3 linked regions of the Homo sapiens genome follow. The protein of the gene in region 3 purifies or fractionates together with the protein of the main gene of each other region. This does not show direct contact. Each region holds a gene or a part of one and is shown on either strand. Other genes may lie near its edges.

Region 1 (2,713 bases), on a different chromosome or scaffold from region 3:
TAGCTGCTTCATTTTCCAATGGGAAAAAAAAAACAAAAAACAACCCTGAGCAGTATAGTTAGGAGGCACTGAGTCACTGACCACCATTCAATTCCAACCAGCCTCTCAATGCAGCCCTCCCTGCTTCTTGAATTCTGCCCCAGAAAACTCATCCCTGTCTAGGACTCAGCCCTGAGGGGCTGGGCTGGAAGGCTGCCTGCCCCGTGCAGCCTCTCCCACCGTAGAAGTCCTTTCCGTCCTGGTGAAAAGGACACCTTCCTGCCCGCCCACCATGTCTTCCTTGGAAATGCCAGGAAATGGGCTCTGTGCTGATCCAGCTATTTGGGAGCAGTGTCATGGACATGGGCAGAGGGACAGGCTTATCAGCCAGTGGTGTCTGAGTCTCCCGACCTCCCGGTGGGGCCTTCTGGGCCCTGCCGGCTCTTCTGTTTTCCAGAGACCAGACCTTCCTCCCTGTGGGAGGACAGGGTACCACACAGAAGCGGACAGTGACAGTGCTGTACCCGCACAGAACTAGTTTATTCAGTAGTATGGGGCATGAAAAAACAACAACAACAAAACGCTACCCTATTTACAGCAACAACCAAACTGTACAATCTGATGGTTAGTACCAAGTTAGCATCCAGCATCTTTGTATTTTTTTTAAATCAAGTCATCAGTAGTAAAAACCAGTTAAATTTTTAACCCTTTGCAGGAATTGCTGAGGGGAGAAGACGGGGGAGAATCCACGGCAGAAAAGCCAGAGGCTGGCCTCACAAATGAGAAACAGGAGCCTTTCTTTCCTGCCCACAGCCTCTTTTTCTAGCCACCTGCTCCAGAAGGAAAGTCAGTGACAAGTCTGGAATACATGCTTGGAGTAAATGGTGACTCAGATGAAAAGCAGTCGGCAAAACTGAGGAGAGGGGAGGAGAGGTGGGGAGATGATGGCCTGGGGCAAGGGGAAGGGCGTCAAGCCCCCAAGCCAGGGCTGCTGGGAACACCCAGCCTGTGATGGCCATATCAGACCCCCGGGACTGGACACGAACCCATCCCAACACAAAAAGCAAATAAATAAAACAAATATATTAACTCTCTCTTCACAGGGAGCTGGGGTGGAGTCGGGGAGAAAGAGGAACAGGACCTGGTCCTTTGAAGAAGAGAGCCAATTCCAAGAAGGGGTTAAAAATAGAACATGTCTCAGAGGCCACAGCAGGTTAGACAAAGTAGCATTTGTCTGATTTTGGGGGGTGGGGTGGGTGAGTGGACACCAGAACCCAGACTTGAAACCTGTGCTTGATTGAGCACCCTCAGGGCAGCCGAGCCAGCACTGTGTTTACTCTTCCTCCCCCACCCACATCACAGCAAAGAAGCGCAACTTAACACATGACTGGCCTGCCCGGGGCGCGGGGCGGGCACGAAAAATGAAGCACTTTTGGGTCAGCAACTGAGCAAACACCTGGGCTGCCGCGCACGGCCAGAGTCCAGGAAAAGGAGAGGGGCTGGGGCTGCCCGACCCCCGCCTGGGGGCACAGGCTCCCCTGAAAATGTGTTCATGCAGCATTTGGGGGTCCAGGGGCGCTGAGTCCTTCTGCCCCCTCACCGGACAGGGCTTTTCCAGTTCCTGGGAGAGGCAGTGCGGGCAGGACGAGGCACACCCTTTGCCCTGGCCCCTCACCGTTCTGAGGCCTGCCCGGGTGCAGCCTGAAGGGTGTGAAGCCCTGGCTGCGTGTGGCTTTGTCCTTTCCTTTTGGTGATGGCGTATGAGGGGCAGGCCCCCCAGGAGTCCCTCTCCTCCCAGAGGCACAGCAGATGGGAAACTGAGGAGAGGCTGGGAAGCATCCTGGGAGGTCCTATCCTCTTTGGGAAGGGAAAGGGGAGTCAATTTCCAGCGTATAAAAAAAATGAATCCCTGAAGTCATGAAGAGTGGAGATCCTTTTTTAAATTCTTTTTTTCCTCTTTTCTGAAAAACTTTGTCTTGGAGATGTTGGCCCCAGGGGTCCAAAGTGCAGTGAGGGGAATGGTGGGGGGGGAGTTGGCACTAGATGGCCTTAGGTGGGGTGAGTACCCCTCCCGGCAAGGCCCAGGCTCCTCAGATGGACGTTTCGTCGCTGCTGCGGGCAGGCGATGGGGAGCGGGGCAGGATAAAGCACAAGACAGGAGCAGGGCATGAGTGCGGCTGGGGAAGGGAAGGGAGCCTCGGGCGTAGGAACCACGGCCCAGGGTTAATGCAGGAAGTTAAAGAAGAGAAATCTGGAGAGGCAGGAAAGGAAAGTGGCAGAAAAGGCAGACAGAGGGTTAGTTGAAACAGAGGAGAGAGTGAAAGCTTTCACCAGACGAAGGAAACAGGAAAGCACCCCCAGCTCCCCATCCTCCCGCACTCTGCCCTAGGCTGGGCTGCGCCGCGTAGAGCCTAGGAGGGGTGGCCCTCCCCGCAAGGCACCATGGTTTGTGGGCACGGCATAGTAAGGGAGCTGGGCCAGTTCTGCCCATTTGTCCTCCAAATGCCATCCAGAGTCACCTGGGGAGGCCCGGAGGCAGCTCTGGGCCCAGGTGAGGCCTCCGAGGGGCTGCACCCCGTCCCGCCCACCCGGCCACACTCACTCGGAGCCTGACGAGTCCTCATCCACCGTGCCTGCCTTGATGCTCATGGCGATGGGCATGACCCCGTTCAGCTGCTCCTGGAGGCTCTGCCGGGGCGGTGGGCGGGGAGGGGGGCCTCCCCGGCTGCCCTCA
Region 2 (7,000 bases), on a different chromosome or scaffold from region 3:
AGAGCGCACAATACATACGCACACATAAACAGATACAGGCAAACCCTCTATACAGTATGACCACACATATATGTATGTATTTACATAGTGTAAGAAATAAATATTAGAACTTAGGCCATATTCAAACATCACTCAGATCAGTAGTATCTGATATGTATCTTTTATATTAGGAAAAGCAAAATATTGTTTGAAAAGCATGGCATAATCTTCACATAACATATTTTTGGACCCTTGGAAAGTCACACTACTATTCCAACTACTTACCAGTTCTTCAGAGGTCAAATGCATCAAACGTTCAGCTATTGCAGCACACTGGGCTGAATCTCTTATAAGTTCCCCTTGTTTATCTCCAATTACTAGCTCTGGCCAGGTCAGTCCTTCATTCTTCTTAATCAAGGAAATCTCCAAGCTAGAAGTTTAAATGGGAAAAGTAATGTTACATTAAGCAATTATACAAATTATACAATCAGTAGCAAACATTGTTTGTTTCTATCTTCTATAGAAAGAACCCTCCGGTGTCCAGAGGATGGTTTACCAAAAATCTTGCTCATTTAAGTTTTGCATGTGATGGAAAACCTATAATCCAATGGCAAATAGTCCAGATTTAATAAAGAAAGAAAGTACCACTGGAAATGGTACATCAAATGGCCTGAAGAGAGGATTGCCTGGAAAGAGTCAAGTCATCCAGAAAGTACTGGTATGCAGTATGTTCCTGAACTTAATAGAAATACAAGAAGCATGGATCTATAAGACATCTGGGGAATGGTCGGGGGTGTGGGCATGTAAGCAAAGAGTAAAAGGGCTGTAATTAAAGGATAATTCTTTGTGTCTGGAATCAACAATTAACTTTATTTTCACAAACTAAGAGCCATAATATATGATTATTAACCTGAAGATCAAGCAGGTTAAATCAACGCAAATCTTAATTTTAAAATACAGATGTTAAATAACTGAAAAGTAGAAATAAGGAAAAAAATTAACTTTGGTAATACAGGGAAAAAAGATGTTAATGTGTTCTCTATTAACTTATTTAAAATCTAATTCTGTACATGTAAACAACTAAACAATTCCAGATGCACTTAAAATGGTCTGTCAGGGAACCCTGAGATCAAGGACTGATGCAGCAGGAAAGGGAAAGAGAGCAGAGTCAAGGCAGACTACGGACATAGGAGAAGAAGTAACTTGTCCCATGTTCCTCTGGAATAGGAAGGAAAACCCAAGTAAGATGCTTTGGGAGCACCCACTGCTATAACAGAAAAGGGGAGTGGTAATAGCTATTCCACAACAAAGCAACCTTTTCCATGTGCCATCTTTCGTACACATGTACCATATTAGCTCATGCCCTGGAACACAACTGCAAGAATACAATAATAACTATTATAGTTATCAAATAGGACACGCAAACTTACCAGCTGTTCTTTTTCAAGACTGTTACAATCACTACCTTATGAATTACAGCATTTAACATTTTTCTGAAACTACCTATTTTAAGAGACTATACAAAATAATAATATGAGTACTTATAATTAGCACTGAAAATTACTCCCACAATAAAAGCCCAGATTTAGTTACATCTTTTCTTTTTTTGAGACAGAGTCTCACTCTCTTGCCCAGGCTGCAGTGCAATGGCACAATCTCTCTTACTGCAACCTCCAACTCCCGGGTTCAAGTGACTCTCGTGCCTCAGCCTCCCAAGTAAGTAGCTGGGATTACAGGCCACGCCATCATGCCCACCTGGCTAATATTTGTATTTTTAGTAGAGACAGGGTTTTGTCATGTTGGCCAGGCTGATCTTAAACTCCTGGCCTCAAGTGATCTGCCTGCCTTGGTCTCCCAAAGTGCTAGGATTATAGGTGTGAGCCACCGTGCCCAGCCCCCAGACTGAGTTACATTTTCTAAGGATAAAGGTAATCTTGATAATAATGATGATGATAATAATAGTAATAATGACCATAGCTTATACTTACCTATATGTCAGGTGCTGTCTTAAGCACTTTACATGTTTTAACTCATTGGTTACAACAACCAAATAAAGTACTGTAAATATTATTATCATCACCATTTTACAAGTAAGAAAAAAAAGTACTGAGGTTAAGCAACTTGCCAAGGTCACAAGCTATTTAAACAGTCTGGCTCTAAGTCCATGTTCTTCACTACTGCACTATTCTGCCTCTCTGAAAAAATATATGTAAATAACTATTAAAGAACACTTACCCAGTGAACTGTTCTTAGTTGCTACCTAAAGAGGTCTGAAAGAGTTGATACAATCTGTTATAATTTCCAAACCATCATTAATTTGCACAGTTAATCAGTGCACCCTTCTTCTAAGACTGCATTTGTACGTTTTAAAACTAGTATTGTATGCTACCATCCAAGCAAAAAAAAAACCCCAAACAATGCCAAATATAATAAACTACAGATTAGTTAAAAAAATCTTTCCAAAGTGAGACAACAGTAACTTTTGAAAACGAGAGGTACGAATAATTTACTCAAGTACAGAAAATCGTGTTTTTAAAACAACAATACCACCTACGCTACATTGTAGTTATCTTTTTTAACACAAAATAATAATCAAACACCTCAAATTTAATGGAAAAATAATACTGATCTATGTTGATGCATTGAATGCTGAAACTACTTACATGAAGTCAAGCTATTCCCCCAGACCTTTGCTGGGTTACTGCTTGATGACTTACATTTAACAATATGTTCTAGTTGGCTTGCCAATTTGTAAATGTGACTCACATACACATAAACATAATTAAATGGAGTATGTGGAGATACAAAATACTTTTAAAAGAAACTTTCAAGCAATTATTTTTGATATATTAAAAAGTGTAACAAAATCACCAAATGTCTTCATTAATAAAATGTAAGATACCTTTTACAACTTCAAACTTTCTATGAGCTAGATATATTTTTCTTGGATGCTCATGATTTAGACTTGTATCAGACTCACATGGATCATATACTACTAATTAAGAACTATACTTTGTGTAAAAACATCTAAGTTATCCTCTATGTAACATCAACTTAAAGCACAAGATTTAGGTTGTATTTTAAATCAACCATTTCTCATTTCTGACCAAATTTGACTATTTAAAAAATTAACTGCCTAACTCTATTCATTAATCCATCACTGAATTTAATAATTACTAAGACTTGATTTAAAATAAAAGAAAGTAATTTTAGTAATCCAAATAATTGGGGAAAAAACTGCCTGGAATAATAGATTTGCAAAATGGCACAGTTGTGGGGGGCAAAGGATTATAATTTTAAAAGACACTTAACTTTATCTTTTTTTAAAAAGACACAGTTTTGCTCCTTTAATTGAGGTGTAATTTATAAATAAAATTCACAGGTTTTAAGTGTAGAATTTACTGATTTTGACAAATGCATACACCTTTGTAACCCAATGAGGATACTGAATTATTTCCACCATACAGGCAGTTCCCTTGGCCTTTCTTCAGTCAATCTCCCTACACCCTAGAGATAACAAGTGTTCTGATTTGTATCACCATAGATTAGTTTTGCCAGTTCTAGAACTCCATATGTGGAATCATACAGTATGATTTTTTGTCTTTGGCTTCTTTCACTCCACATGTTTTTAATTCATTCATATTGCTTTTTATTTATTGCTAGCACTTTATTACAGAGTAACATTCCATTGTATGAATATACCACACGTACTTATCCATTCACCTTTTCAGTAACACTAGAGATATTTCTGGCTTTTATAAGTATGCCTGCTATGAATATATGTTTGCAAATTTGTTTTGGCTTTGTTTTGTTTTTTAACATATATTTTCAGTTGGGCATGGTGGCTCACACCTGTAATCCTAGCACTTTGGGAGGTCGAAGCAGGCAGATCGCTTGAGGTCAGGAGTTCGAGACCAGTCTGAGCAACATGGCAAAACCCCATCTCTACAAAAAATACAAAAATTAGCTGAGTGACTGTGCCACTGCACTCCATCCTGGGCAACAGAGTGAGACCCTGTCTCAGAAAAACAAAAAATTATATACATTCATTTATTTTGGTTAAACATCAAGGAGTAGAATTGTTAAGATTAAAAATAGGTATATGTTTAACTTGATATGAAACTGCTAAACAGTCTGCCAAAGTGATTGTATTATTATTTTACACTCGTACCAGATATGAATGAGTTGCTGGTGCCCCACATCCTTGCCAACGTTTGATACTGTCAGTCTTCAAAGTTTTAGTCATGTATTGGTGTCTCACTCTAGTTTTAATTTTCCTAATGTCTAATGATAATTACCTTTTGATGTGCTTACTAGCTGTTCATCTATCTTCTATTGTGACATGTCTATTCAAATAATTTGACCATTTAAAAAATTGGCTTATTATGAATTTGTAAGGCTTCCTTATACACTAAGAATGAAAGTCCTTTGGTTTAAGATGAATACTGTGAATATTTTTTCCCAGTTCATGGCTTACCTTTTTGTTCTCTTAATGGTATCTTTAGAAGAACAAAAATTTTTAATTTTGATATGCAGAAAATGTCTGTTTTGATGAAGTCTAACTTATGTATTTCTTTCTTTTTTTTTTGAGACGTAGTTTCACTCTTATTGCCCAGGGCCGGAAAGCAATGGCCTGGTCTCGGAAACCTCCGCCTCCCGGGTTCAAGTAGTTCTCCTGTCTCAGCCTCCCAAGTAGCTGGGATTACAGGCACCCGCCACCACGCCCAGCTAATTTTTGTGTTTTTAGTTGAGACGGGGTTTCACCATGTTGGTCAGGCTGGTCTCGAACTCCTGACCTCAGGCAATCCACCCGCCTCAGCCTCCCAAAGTGCTGGGATTACAGGCATGAGCCACTGTGCCTGGCCACTTATGTATTTCTTTTATGGCTTTGTGTCCTGAACACACAGTTCAAAAAACAAATGTAAATGGAGAATTTACATAAGAAAAAATTACTACAATTTACAAAGAAATATTAATTATTCCACTTTTAGAAATTTATCCTTCATATATATTTCTACACATGTGAAATAATATGTATATAAACAGAAGTTATTGAAAACAACCTAAATTAACACAATAGAGGATTAATTGTCTAAAATGATGGTGCAGTTGATAGAATAAAATACCGTGATGTCATAAAAGAGAATTTAATAATTTTTATATATTCATTATGGAAAGATCCCTAAGATTTATCATTGCAAGTGAACAAAAGCAAGATGTATAATTGTGTAAAGTATGTGTCAAAAAACTTTTTTATTGTTGTTAGAGACAGGGTTTTCTCTTCTTGCCTAGGCTGGTCACAAACTCCTGGCCTCAAGCAATCCTCCTACCTCAGCATCCCAAATGTTGGGATTACAGGCGTGAGCCACTGCAGCTAGCCGCCAAAAGTAGTTTTCCTTAAAGAAAAGGAAAAAGTATGTGTCATGCTTGAATGTATGTAAAATGTAACAACACTGATTGTGAGGAGTGGGAGGATGGGTGACCCATAGGCTTGTGTTGGAGGCAGACTTCTCACTCTACATCCTTTTGTATATTTAAAATTTTAAAGAATGGAAATATATTATCAAGCCAGCAAACTAAAGTTAAAAAAATTATTTCTATTAAAAAGTTTGAAAAAGTGCAATTTAAAATAGCCATTTTCACCTATGATTATTATTGTATCCAGAGCTGGTAAAACAAAGCACTACCATATTCTCCAAGTGATAGCTATGCTACTATCTTTAATTTCAACTAGAAATATGCTCTTTGACACAGTAATTCTATTTTTAATATATCTTAAGAAAAGTAACCAGCAATACAGACAGAACTATTGTATTAATCTCTGATGTAACCACTGTGGAAAGAGTAAAAAGAAAAGAAAAAAAGATAATAGAATATTAAAGTAAAATTAAAAAAAAATACCTATTACTCTCTTTAATTATCCATGTACTGCTTTCATGATCAATAGATGAATAGAGTTTTCCTTCTAAAAACTGGTGATCCTTCAGTACAATGTTGATGTGATCAGGCAAAAACTGTATTTGAATGTCCTCCTTAGTACTGTCTTCTGGAAGCCGTATGGTTACTGTCAAATCATCTTCAGTCTGTTGCCAGTAATACAGAGGTTCTATTGGGAAAAGAAAAATGCATCATGTAATAAAAAATTAGAGAAAGCATACACACACACAAAACCTATCTAAAAGAATTTTAGTATATTTACTAGTGATCATCTCACAAAACGTAATTATAAACAAACATGCACAGATCTCTTTGAGGAATTTTCACTCAAAGATTTGCAGCAATTAACATGAAATTTTCCTCTTCCAGACTTACCTGATGCTTGAGGAGATAAAGCACTCATAAAATACTAATGATAGCAATCCTTTATCCTCATTTCTTCCCTCTCTCCCTCCCTTCCTCCCTCTTTCACTCCTTCTTTCCTTTAAACAAACACACACACACACAGAGTGAATCCCTAGTTCAAAAGAACATAAAATATGTTACCCAGAAAAGCTAGCAAAGCAGTTACATAATAATATCTCAATGGATAGCTTCTGCCAGATAATGGGAATGGGAGGATGTGCAAAATCACATGCACTTTTAGTATAAATTAAAGGCCATACTACCCCAACCCTTCCTGTGCATACATCACAGTGCAGCCAGGCCCTATCCACTCCATTTCTAAGCAGACCTCCAGGCATTCAAAGCACCTTGCCCAGATTGCAGCCTGAACTGTCCCACCTTTCCTATTCATAGATCTGGTGTTGGGGGGCCCTCTCTGCTTCACACCCAGGTGGACTTTCAGGCATTCAAAGCACCTGTTTGCCTGTTTCAACAGCCTGAGTTAACCTACATCTCCTGTGCAGAGATTTTCATACAGAGGGGCCCTCCCTGCTCCATGCCTAGGCAGAGCTCCAGGCACCTGGAGCTCTCCTAGATTAGGAGCTCATGCCATCCCCCGAACCCTGTCCAGAGAACTTGGGGCTGGGAGGGTTTCTTAGCTCCACACTTAGGTATGCCTCTGGGCATTTAGTGGCTGCCA
Region 3 (8,854 bases):
GTTGAGACAGGGTTTCACCATGTTAGTCAGGCTGGTCTTGAACTTCTGACCTCAAGGTGATCCGCCCGACTCGACCTCCCAAAGTGCTGGGATTAGAGGCATGAGCTACTGCACCCAGCCCATCTACACCTTTGCAGGGGATTCTGGAGAATTCCGTGTAGCAGGATGACCTATGGAGACAAACTTGCCTCTCACCCGAGGCACCACTCACCTGTCTGTAGCCTGCGTGCTTCATCTATAGTTGGGACCTCTTGCCTGTGGGGCACCTGGTCCACCCTTCCAGCCTCAGCCATCCCAATGGCCTCCTTTTCTTTCCTTTTTTTTTTTTTTTTTTTTTTTGAGATGGAGTCTCGCTCTGTCTCGCAGGCTGGAGTGCAGTGGCGCGATCTCAGCTCATTGCAACCTCCACGTGCCAGGTTCAGTGATTCTCCTCTTTATTTTCTTGAAGGTGCCAAGCTCGCTCCTGTCTCGGGCATTTTGTTCGTGCTGTTCTCTCATTCCAGAACCTCCTTCCCTTGCTCCTCTTACAGCCGGTCTCTCATCTTCCCACTTTCAACGGAGGTAGCACATCCTCGCAAGAGTTTCCTCCGATGCCCCAGGCCAAGGTATTCTCCATCACCTCATCCTGCTCTTGGCCTGGTCACCGTTGGTCATAAAAATTATGCAAAAGTGTTCATTTGTTCATGACCTGCGTGTTCTTAAGTCCTTTGTGGGGAGAGTCCAGGGTTGATTCACTCACCACCATGTGGAACAGAGTAAATAAGAAATATTCGCTGGATGAATCAATTTGTTTGGTGCCACAGGGCCACAGGAAGGGGTGCCAGCCCCAAGAGAACAGTGGAGGCTTTGTGCGGCAGAGGCCTGGATCCTTCTTCCCCAGGAGTTGGAGACTGGAGGCCTTTAGCAAGTGCTTCCTAGGGAAACTTCAGGTCCCTCTGGGCAGAAAGGAGCCCAGAAGGGTGGATATTTGGGGGAGATGGCTGGCACCAGAGATGGCTGGCACCAAGGGGGCTGGGACTGCAGGAGGCTGTGTGGGGCGGGGACTTGGAGGGAAGTGACAGAGCAAGGGAAAGGGCTGGCGAGTGTGAGCGTGAGAGTCGGTGGATTTTGAAAGTGTGTGAGTGTGGTGGGGTGTGTGAGTGTGTGTGAGGATGTGAGTAAGAGAGAATGTATGTGTGTGTGTGTTGGGGGAATCCCTGGGACCGAACTTATTGTAGAAAGGGTGGCATCCTGCCCAGCTGCATTTAGGGGAAGGACCTCTGCCAGCCTAGGGCACATCTGGCTGAGGTGACCCTTGAGCTTGAGAGCAGTACCAGGGGAGCGATGCAGGGAATCCGCAGACTAGAAGACCAGGGTGCACCTCCCCAAACAGCCGGCTGCCTGGAGTGGCTCTTCGGAGCCTGGGTAAACCCCTGGAGATCTGTCCTATTCAAAGGAGGCAGAGAGCCCCCAAAATGATTGAGGTGGGGAATTCCAACCACCGATGGGGTAGAGGTATTAAACTAATTTAGTTTACCAAAATGAAACAAGAGAAAAGGCCGGGAGGTGGGGTGCGGTGGCTCACGCCTGTAATCCTTGCACTCTGGGAGGCTGAGGGGGGCAGATCACCTGAGGCCAAGAGTTCAAGACCAAACATGGCGAAACCCCATCTCTACTAAAAATACAAAAATCAGCTGGGTGTGGTGGCGTGCACCTGTGATCCCAGCTACTCTGGAGGCCGAGACACGATAATCGCTTGAACCCGGGAGGCGGAGCTTGCAGTGAGCTGAGATTGCACCACTGCACTCCAGCCTGGGCGACAGAGTGAGACTCCACCTCAGAAAAATAAAAAACAAGAGAAAACTACAAAATACGTATCCTGACTTGTGCCAAAGCATCTCGGAGCAGCTGCTGCTCTTGCTAGTGCCCTCTGTGGTCCCAACTCCTGGCCGCCACCTGCCCGGGCCTGGGCTGCCGCCTTGCACAGCCATTCTCCTGGCACGGTCAGATGTCTGAGAGTCAACACCATTTAGGAAGGATGACTTTCTCCACCCCTTCTGAGACTAGAAACAAAATGGAAGGGTCATAAGAATGGTGCCAAGCAGCCAAAAGAGCCACTTCCTTTGGGTACCAACAGGTGGCGTGGCGTCATGGCTCCTGTCTTCCCCAAGTGCCTGTGCCCAGCAGCTGCCTCTGCCTGTGCATCTTCTAGGGCGATGCTAATGGCAGATTTCCTGAGAGCCCTGTCCCATCTGCATGGATGGGAAGGACGACATACATTGCTGTTCTTCCTAAGGAAAGTGGCATCCCTCCCAAACCTGGGAACTCGGGTCTCCATGGACCGCACAGACACCTGAGAAAAGGTTTTGCATCAGAGGCTGATGGCAGAGGCTCTACCAGTCCAGCAAGTCACCTGACTGATGTGAAGGGTTCCCCTAGAGCAGGAGGGACATCTGGGCTGAAAACCCTCATGTGAAAAGGCCTGGGCCCCCCAGGCACTCGGCACCTATGAAATGCAACCCCAGCGGGTGGAAAAGCAAGTCCACGATTGCACTCCCCTGCCAGGCTAGGGAGAAATTCTGCTATTGCAGTTCAGGGGCAACACACCCACCCCCGCAGACCTGAGGGTGGCTGCAACTGTCAGCCACACCCAAAGAATGCAGGGCAGGCTCACTGTGGATAAATGTTTATGAAAGAACCACATGGAAATTGAAATATTTGAGATGAGACTGAATGATCTCTAAATCCTAAAAGAGAAAACTAGAGAAACATTAAAGATGAAAGAATAAAATATTCTGTTATAGAAAGCTGTAACCAAAACGGATCACATTAGAACTTACCTCAAGAAAAAGGTGCATTAACAGAATAGTTGTATTGTCACCCAAAAATTACCTGGTCCGCTCCCTGCCTGGGAGGTCAAGGTAAGATGGACTCAATTCCTCTCCTGGTTTCACAGCCTGTAGAAGATGGCTGAAGATTTGGGCTAATTTCGTGAGAGACCTACGTTGCATTTCTTTCTTTTTTTTTTTTTTAGACCAAGTATTGCTCTGTTGTCCAGGCTGCTGGAGTGCAATGGCACGATCTCAGCTCATTGCAACCTCCACCTCCCAGGTACAAGCGATTCTCCTGTCTCAGCCTCCCTAGTAGCTCGGATTACAGGCGTGCGCCACCATACCCAGCTAATTTTTGTATTTTTAGTAGAGACAGGTTTTCACCATGTTGGCCAGGCTGGTCTGGAATTCCTGACCTCAAGCGATCTGCCTGCCTCGGCCTCCCAAAGTGCTAGGATTACAGGCGTGAGCCACTGTGCCCTGCCTTTTTTTCTTTTCTTTTCTTTTCTTTTGAGACGGAGTCTCGCTCTGTCGCCCAGGCTGGAGTGCAGTGGCGACATCTCAGCTCGCTGCAACCTCCGCCTCCTAGGTTCAAGGGATTCTCGTGCCTCAGCCTCCTGAGTAGCTGGGATTACAGGCGCCCACCACCACACCCAGCTAATTTTTGTATGTTTAGTAGAGACGGGGTTTCACCATGTTGGCCATGCTGGTCTCGAACTCCTGACCTCAGGTGATCCGCCCACCTTGGCCTCCAAGTGTTGGGATTACAAGGGTGAGCCACCGCGCCCAGCCCAAGGATTCTTACAGATAGGGCATAGTCTCAGCATCAGACTAATATGGTTATCTTGTTTGCTTTTTTCAAAAAACACCAGCGCCCAGGTAATAAATACAAGGTGAATTTTGTTCCAAGTACATCTAGCCTCTCTCCCCATCTCCAGTCCCTGCTTTAGGATCCGTGGGGAGGGCATGGAAATTCGTTTTGGGTTGTTTACCTGTGACTTCACCCTACTCATCATTCCTACTTACATCAAAAAAGACACAGCAGATACGACTGTGTTTGCAAAGTTCTGCCTTTTGGATAAAGTAGTTTATGCCCATCCTGTGCTTCTCTGAGTTTCTGAGGTCAGGCCAGGAACCAACACTCTCAACCTGCCCAAGGGAATGGGGAGGAAGCCAGCGAAGTTGCCTCAGATCAAGAGGATTTTTAAAAATACTGCAAAAGAAATACGTGCTCACAAATACTCAGCTAAAACCTTCGCAGAGCTGTCAGAGGACAAAGCTTTTGGAGGGAGTGGGTGGAGCTAGAGATTGCACAGCCGCCACCAGCCTACAAAGGTCAAATCTCACACTCTCAGATCCCTAATTCCGAAGAGCCATTTCCTCGGCAGCCCCAGGCTTTGGCCGATCGCTCCCAGATCCCTCCCTCCCCAAACTGCAGGTGCTCCGCGTGTGGGAGTCACGGATGGCCCCAGAGCCCGGGACGTTAAGGCCGAGCGCCCGCGCCTCCGCTTCTCCACAGCCACCTGACGGCCAGGGGCAGGTGGGGGAGCCCAGCCTTCTCCCTGCCCGGGAGACAGCGCGGGAGGGCTGTTGCAGGGGTGGGCAAAGTCCCTCGAGTCCCCGTTCTGGGGCGGGGGCGCGCGCCACTGTCACACTTCAGGCGTCCGCCACGCCGCCAGGTGTGCTCGGCCGACCCGGAAGTAGCGGCACCTCTAGTGCGCTGCGGAGACGTCACCCTGCCGCGGCACAGGGGCGGGAGCGCCTGTGGCTCTGCGCACTTGCGTCATCACGTAGGCTGGCGGGGTCCCGTGATGGGGAGGTGACGTAGGCGACACGGAAGCGGCGGTGGGCGGGGACAGGGAGTTAGCGGAATCTAGCCCCGCCTCTTAAAGCCTCCCAACCCTTTCGGAGTTAGCGCAGCGCGAACGCTGGGTGCGGCGCCTTTAAGCGTCGCGGTGACACGTGTGTGAGGCGCCGGAGGCCCGGATGGTGCGCGTGCTGGGCCGCGGGCCGAAGGAGTCGCCAGGGCTGCGTAGGCTTGTGGCGCGCCCGCGGAGAGGCCGGGGTAGGCTGGGGTCGGGTCGGGGCGGTGCGCAGGCCTGGGGACGAGACCGGGGCGGGGGGTTCCGCGAGGCCTGGGGCGCGGGAAGGGCTGGCGGGCGCAGCCGGGACGCTCAGGGAGAACGTGGGCGCGGGTCCGCGCAGGGCTTCGGCCGTCCCCGAGGAGGACCCGGGATGCTCCGCCCGCTCGCGAGCTCGCTTCTCCAGAGCCCGGGTATTCCCGAGGAGGGTCCGGGGCCGGGCTGTCCTCGCCGGTCTCCGCCGTCCCCCGGGCTCCGGGCCGGTGATGGGGGTCGCCGGGGCCCGCTGTCTGTGCAGGATTCAGGTCAACTTCGGAGAGGTTGAAGTCGGAATCAGGGCGAGGGCGTCGCGTGCGGCCGCAGAGCTCAGCGGGGCGGGTGCGGCCCCGGGGCGGGCACCTTCCTCGTGGTTGCGGAGGAGGCCATGGAGCCCGGGGCGGGGTGCGGTTCCGATGCTGCTGCTTCTGGCGGGTGGCGTGGGGGTCCTGGGCCTGGGGCTGGAGTGGCGGCCGCCAAACCCAGACACACGAGAGGGGAGACTCCGCGCGCCCCCGTTTACGTAACGCTCGCCACGGAGCCATGCTCGGGGAGAGGTGCTCGGGTCGCTGTGTCCGCGGCCGGGCTCGGGGCAGGCGCTGCGGAGTCGCCCGGGAGGCCCCTGGAGCGCGGCGCTGGGCCCCGGGAGGCCGCTGCTTCCGTGGGCTCCTCTCCCCAGCACGTGGTTGACCCTGCGAGCGTCCGTTGCAGTTCATCCTGGAAAAGTGACTTTAGAAGGAGGAGGGAGCGGGAATGAGCCTAAATGGTGCTGGCTGGGGTTCGCGCAGGTGGAAATGTGGATGAGGCCTGTGCTGTCCTTGGACAAGAGAGAGCATCCTTCCTGAGTTGGGTAGAGTGTGGATGGTGTGTGCGTCGGAGGGATTGCTAGTGATTACAGGAACACTTGTCTCGGGCTCCTACACGTCAGAGAGCGAGCGAGCGTTGTTTAGGTTATTGCTTAATGTTTTAGGTGGAATTGGTGAAGTAGAGATTGACCTGTCCCACTTGAAAAATTGTGTTCAAAATCTCTGCATCTACATTAAGGAGTGGGTTAAGTTCAAAGTTACTTATCTCGAGTGAAACTGGGTTACATCTCCCAAGGTTCGTTTATCCCCTCCCTAAGTGGTTCTCAAGCGTTGGTTGTGCATGACAGAGTTCTCACCTTCCAGGGTAGATGTGAGTCCTAACCGAAAGCAGTGATATTGTGGGGAGTTTTTAATACGACTGGATGTCTTCACTTTGTAGATGGCTTTTATTCTGAGATCATTTCCTTACACATTTTTCGGGAGTTGGTATGCTTTTATTTATGGATGAAGTCATAGGTCTGAGATTTGCTGTAGAATTACCTGGGGATGGGAAGTGACTCAGGATGGGTCAGATGTAGTTACTGAGGCTGAATAAGGGGGGCTCATGTGCTCCCTGTGCGGTTCTCCATCTGTGTGTTTGAATGTTTTCACTGTAAACTGTTTTTACGAACCTTAATTTTATGTAATCATAGTGATCGTAGATGGTAATGAAAGAGAAAATCCACACTTAGCAAAGCAAAATTTTGGCAACTCCTATTACTCCCTGAGGTTTGTTGTTGTTGTTATTGAAGTTTTACTGGTTCATTAAATCCAAAACTTGGGGATTTATTACCTCTTACTCTTTGGAAATAAGATTAGACTGGAGCTGACTGGCAGGTGTTGGGGAGGTTTTCCTTCTCTGGGCTTGTCTGGGGTCAAGGTTAAGGTGTTCATATCGTGTGCATTACAACAACTGGTGATGAGGTAGTACGGTCCACCCGCCTCATCCTGAGTGCACGCGTGGATGCTCCTTGGACGGCTTTTTCGTGGTAGAGGGTTCCCGGTGCGCGCCGCATCCCTGGGAAGTAGCTGAAGAGAAGGCACAGGAAGAGTCGCCTCCACTGATGGTCTCCCTGTCCCTCCCACAGGCTCTGACGCCCGCTCTGCGGCTTCGGTGTTTGAACAGGCCACAGTCCAGGAGCGCTTACATTCAGGAGCTCCGCGTAGCACCTGCCCAACCAAACTCAGCCCTCCGTTAAGATCCTGGTTCCATGCCGCAGTAGGACAGCAGGCCCAAGTCTGCACATCCCAGGTGAGTCTGCGAGGCTTCTGTGTATTTTTTGATTCCGTTGAATTGTCTGCATGTGACGCAGCAGTGATTGTTCAGTTGGTGAGAAGTCTTTGATAATTCTCATGAGAAAAGGCTCTTTTATTTTCTCAAATCAGACAACTTATAATGCTTTTTTTTAAATAAGCTTCTGAAATTTCTTTACAGAAGTTTTTTGTTTTTTGTTTTTTTTTTTTTTTGAGACCAAGTCTTGCTCTGTTGCCCAGGCTGGAGTGCAGTGGCGCGATCTCGGCTCACTCCAACCTCTGCCTCCCGTGTTCAAGCAATTCTCTGCCTCAGCCTCCTGCGTAGCTGGGATTACAGGCGCCTGCCACCATGCCTGGCTAGTTTTTTTGTATTTTTAGTAGAGAAACATCTTCGCCAGGCTGGTCTTGAATTCCTGACCTCCTGATCCACCCGTCTCGGCCTCCCAAGTGCTGGGATTACAGGCGTGAGCCACGATTTTTTTTGTTTTAAAGATGGGGTCTCACGATGTTGCCCAGGCTGGACTGCACTGGCTATTCACAGGCGTAATCATAGCTCACTGCAGCCTCAGGCTCCTGCCCTCAAGTTATCCTCCCACCTCAGCCTCCCAAGCATCTGGGACGACAGGCCCAGGCCACTGCACCTGGCTTTTCTTTACAGAAGTTTTTGTAGAAAAAGATACTTGATCCATGTATAGAATTAGATGATCCACAGTGATAAATTTGAATGGCTTAATATGAGGTGCTGGAGGAAGTCCTTACTTTCACTAGAGCAGAATTTTGGGGCACACTTGACTTGTTGATTCTCTGAGGGCAGGCTGGGTACTGAATACCAGAGGAAGTCATCATTTTTCTGATGTGAGTGAGCAATTTAAGGGACATATTTTTGAAATTGTGACTCAGATAGTCTGTGCTGTGTTTGGGAAGGTTAAGTTGAGAGGTGGTGGGTAGGGGAGGGCAAGTGGTGGATACAAAGGTAGCGATTGGAGAGGTGCAGGGGTCTCTTCTTGGTTACAGTTTCCATGCAGCTGCACCAACAGTATCGATCCTCTGTTAGGGACTGTAGTATGTAGCAAGCTCTAAAGCACTTCCCAAGCCTATTATTTTTGTTGCTATTTTACAGTAGAATAGGGGGTTTGGAGAAGTCATAGTAGTTGTCCCTGGGTTTCATAGCTAAGGATGATAGAACCTCCCGGGGCCACCACATTCCAAAGCCTGTGATCTCCCCACTCTCCTGCTTGGCTTTTCTTCTTCTCTTTTGATAAGAGTCCTGGGAAGACATTTGTTTAAGTTTAGGTGTCTAATGGATACTAGTCTCTAGGCCTGCTACTTGCTTTTCTTCTCCTTCCTCACTTTTAAAAAGATAATTTGTACTCCAAGCACTGTGTAATGGAGATTAATACAAGCCACAAATATAATTTAAAATTTTATAGTAGCCACATTAAAAAGAAGCAGGTGAAATTCATTTTCATAATTTATTTAACTCAATATATATAAAATATTACCATTTCAACAGGTAACTGATCTAAAAATTACTGGGATGTTTTACATTCTCTTCTTATACTAGTGAGTATTTCTCTTCAAAATCTGGTGTGCATTTTACACTTATAGCACCTCTCAACCTGGACTAGCCTCATTTCACATGCTCAGTAGCCACGTGTGGCCTGTGGCCTTCATATTGAAGAGTGCAGGTCTGTACAGACATGCATGCTCATCTGACCTGCATGCTAATTCATTTATTGCGTGGGTGTGTGTGTGTGTGTCCGTTTGTGTGTGTGTGTGTGTGTGTCCGTGTGTGTATAACCAGTTTGTATGTGAGAATTAGTGTGCC

What was found. Proteins that work in one complex are often made in the same cells at the same time.
Region 1: the proteins of USP36 (region 3) and CELSR2 purify together in Homo sapiens (affinity purification with mass spectrometry; 3 studies listed by BioGRID and IntAct, with this or other methods). This does not show direct contact.
Region 2: the proteins of USP36 (region 3) and NUDCD1 purify together in Homo sapiens (affinity purification with mass spectrometry; 2 studies listed by BioGRID and IntAct, with this or other methods). This does not show direct contact.

What each region holds. Positions count from the first base shown.
Region 1 is NC_000001.11:109,273,539-109,276,251, reverse strand, and holds the end of CELSR2 (cadherin EGF LAG seven-pass G-type receptor 2 precursor), read right to left. Parts: coding exon 2,582-2,713; intron 2,231-2,581; coding exon 2,203-2,230; 3' UTR 501-2,202; downstream 1-500. UniProt on the Homo sapiens protein: Receptor that may have an important role in cell/cell signaling during nervous system formation.
Region 2 is NC_000008.11:109,275,088-109,282,087, forward strand, and holds part of NUDCD1 (nudC domain-containing protein 1), read right to left. Parts: intron 6,086-7,000; coding exon 5,881-6,085; intron 410-5,880; coding exon 265-409; intron 1-264.
Region 3 is NC_000017.11:78,836,757-78,845,610, reverse strand, and holds the start of USP36 (ubiquitin carboxyl-terminal hydrolase 36), read left to right. Parts: upstream 1-4,796; 5' UTR 4,797-4,875; exon of another isoform or gene 4,876-5,332; intron 5,333-5,600; exon of another isoform or gene 5,601-5,772; intron 5,773-6,860; 5' UTR 6,861-7,024; intron 7,025-8,539; exon of another isoform or gene 8,540-8,714; intron 8,715-8,854. UniProt on the Homo sapiens protein: Deubiquitinase essential for the regulation of nucleolar structure and function. Required for cell and organism viability.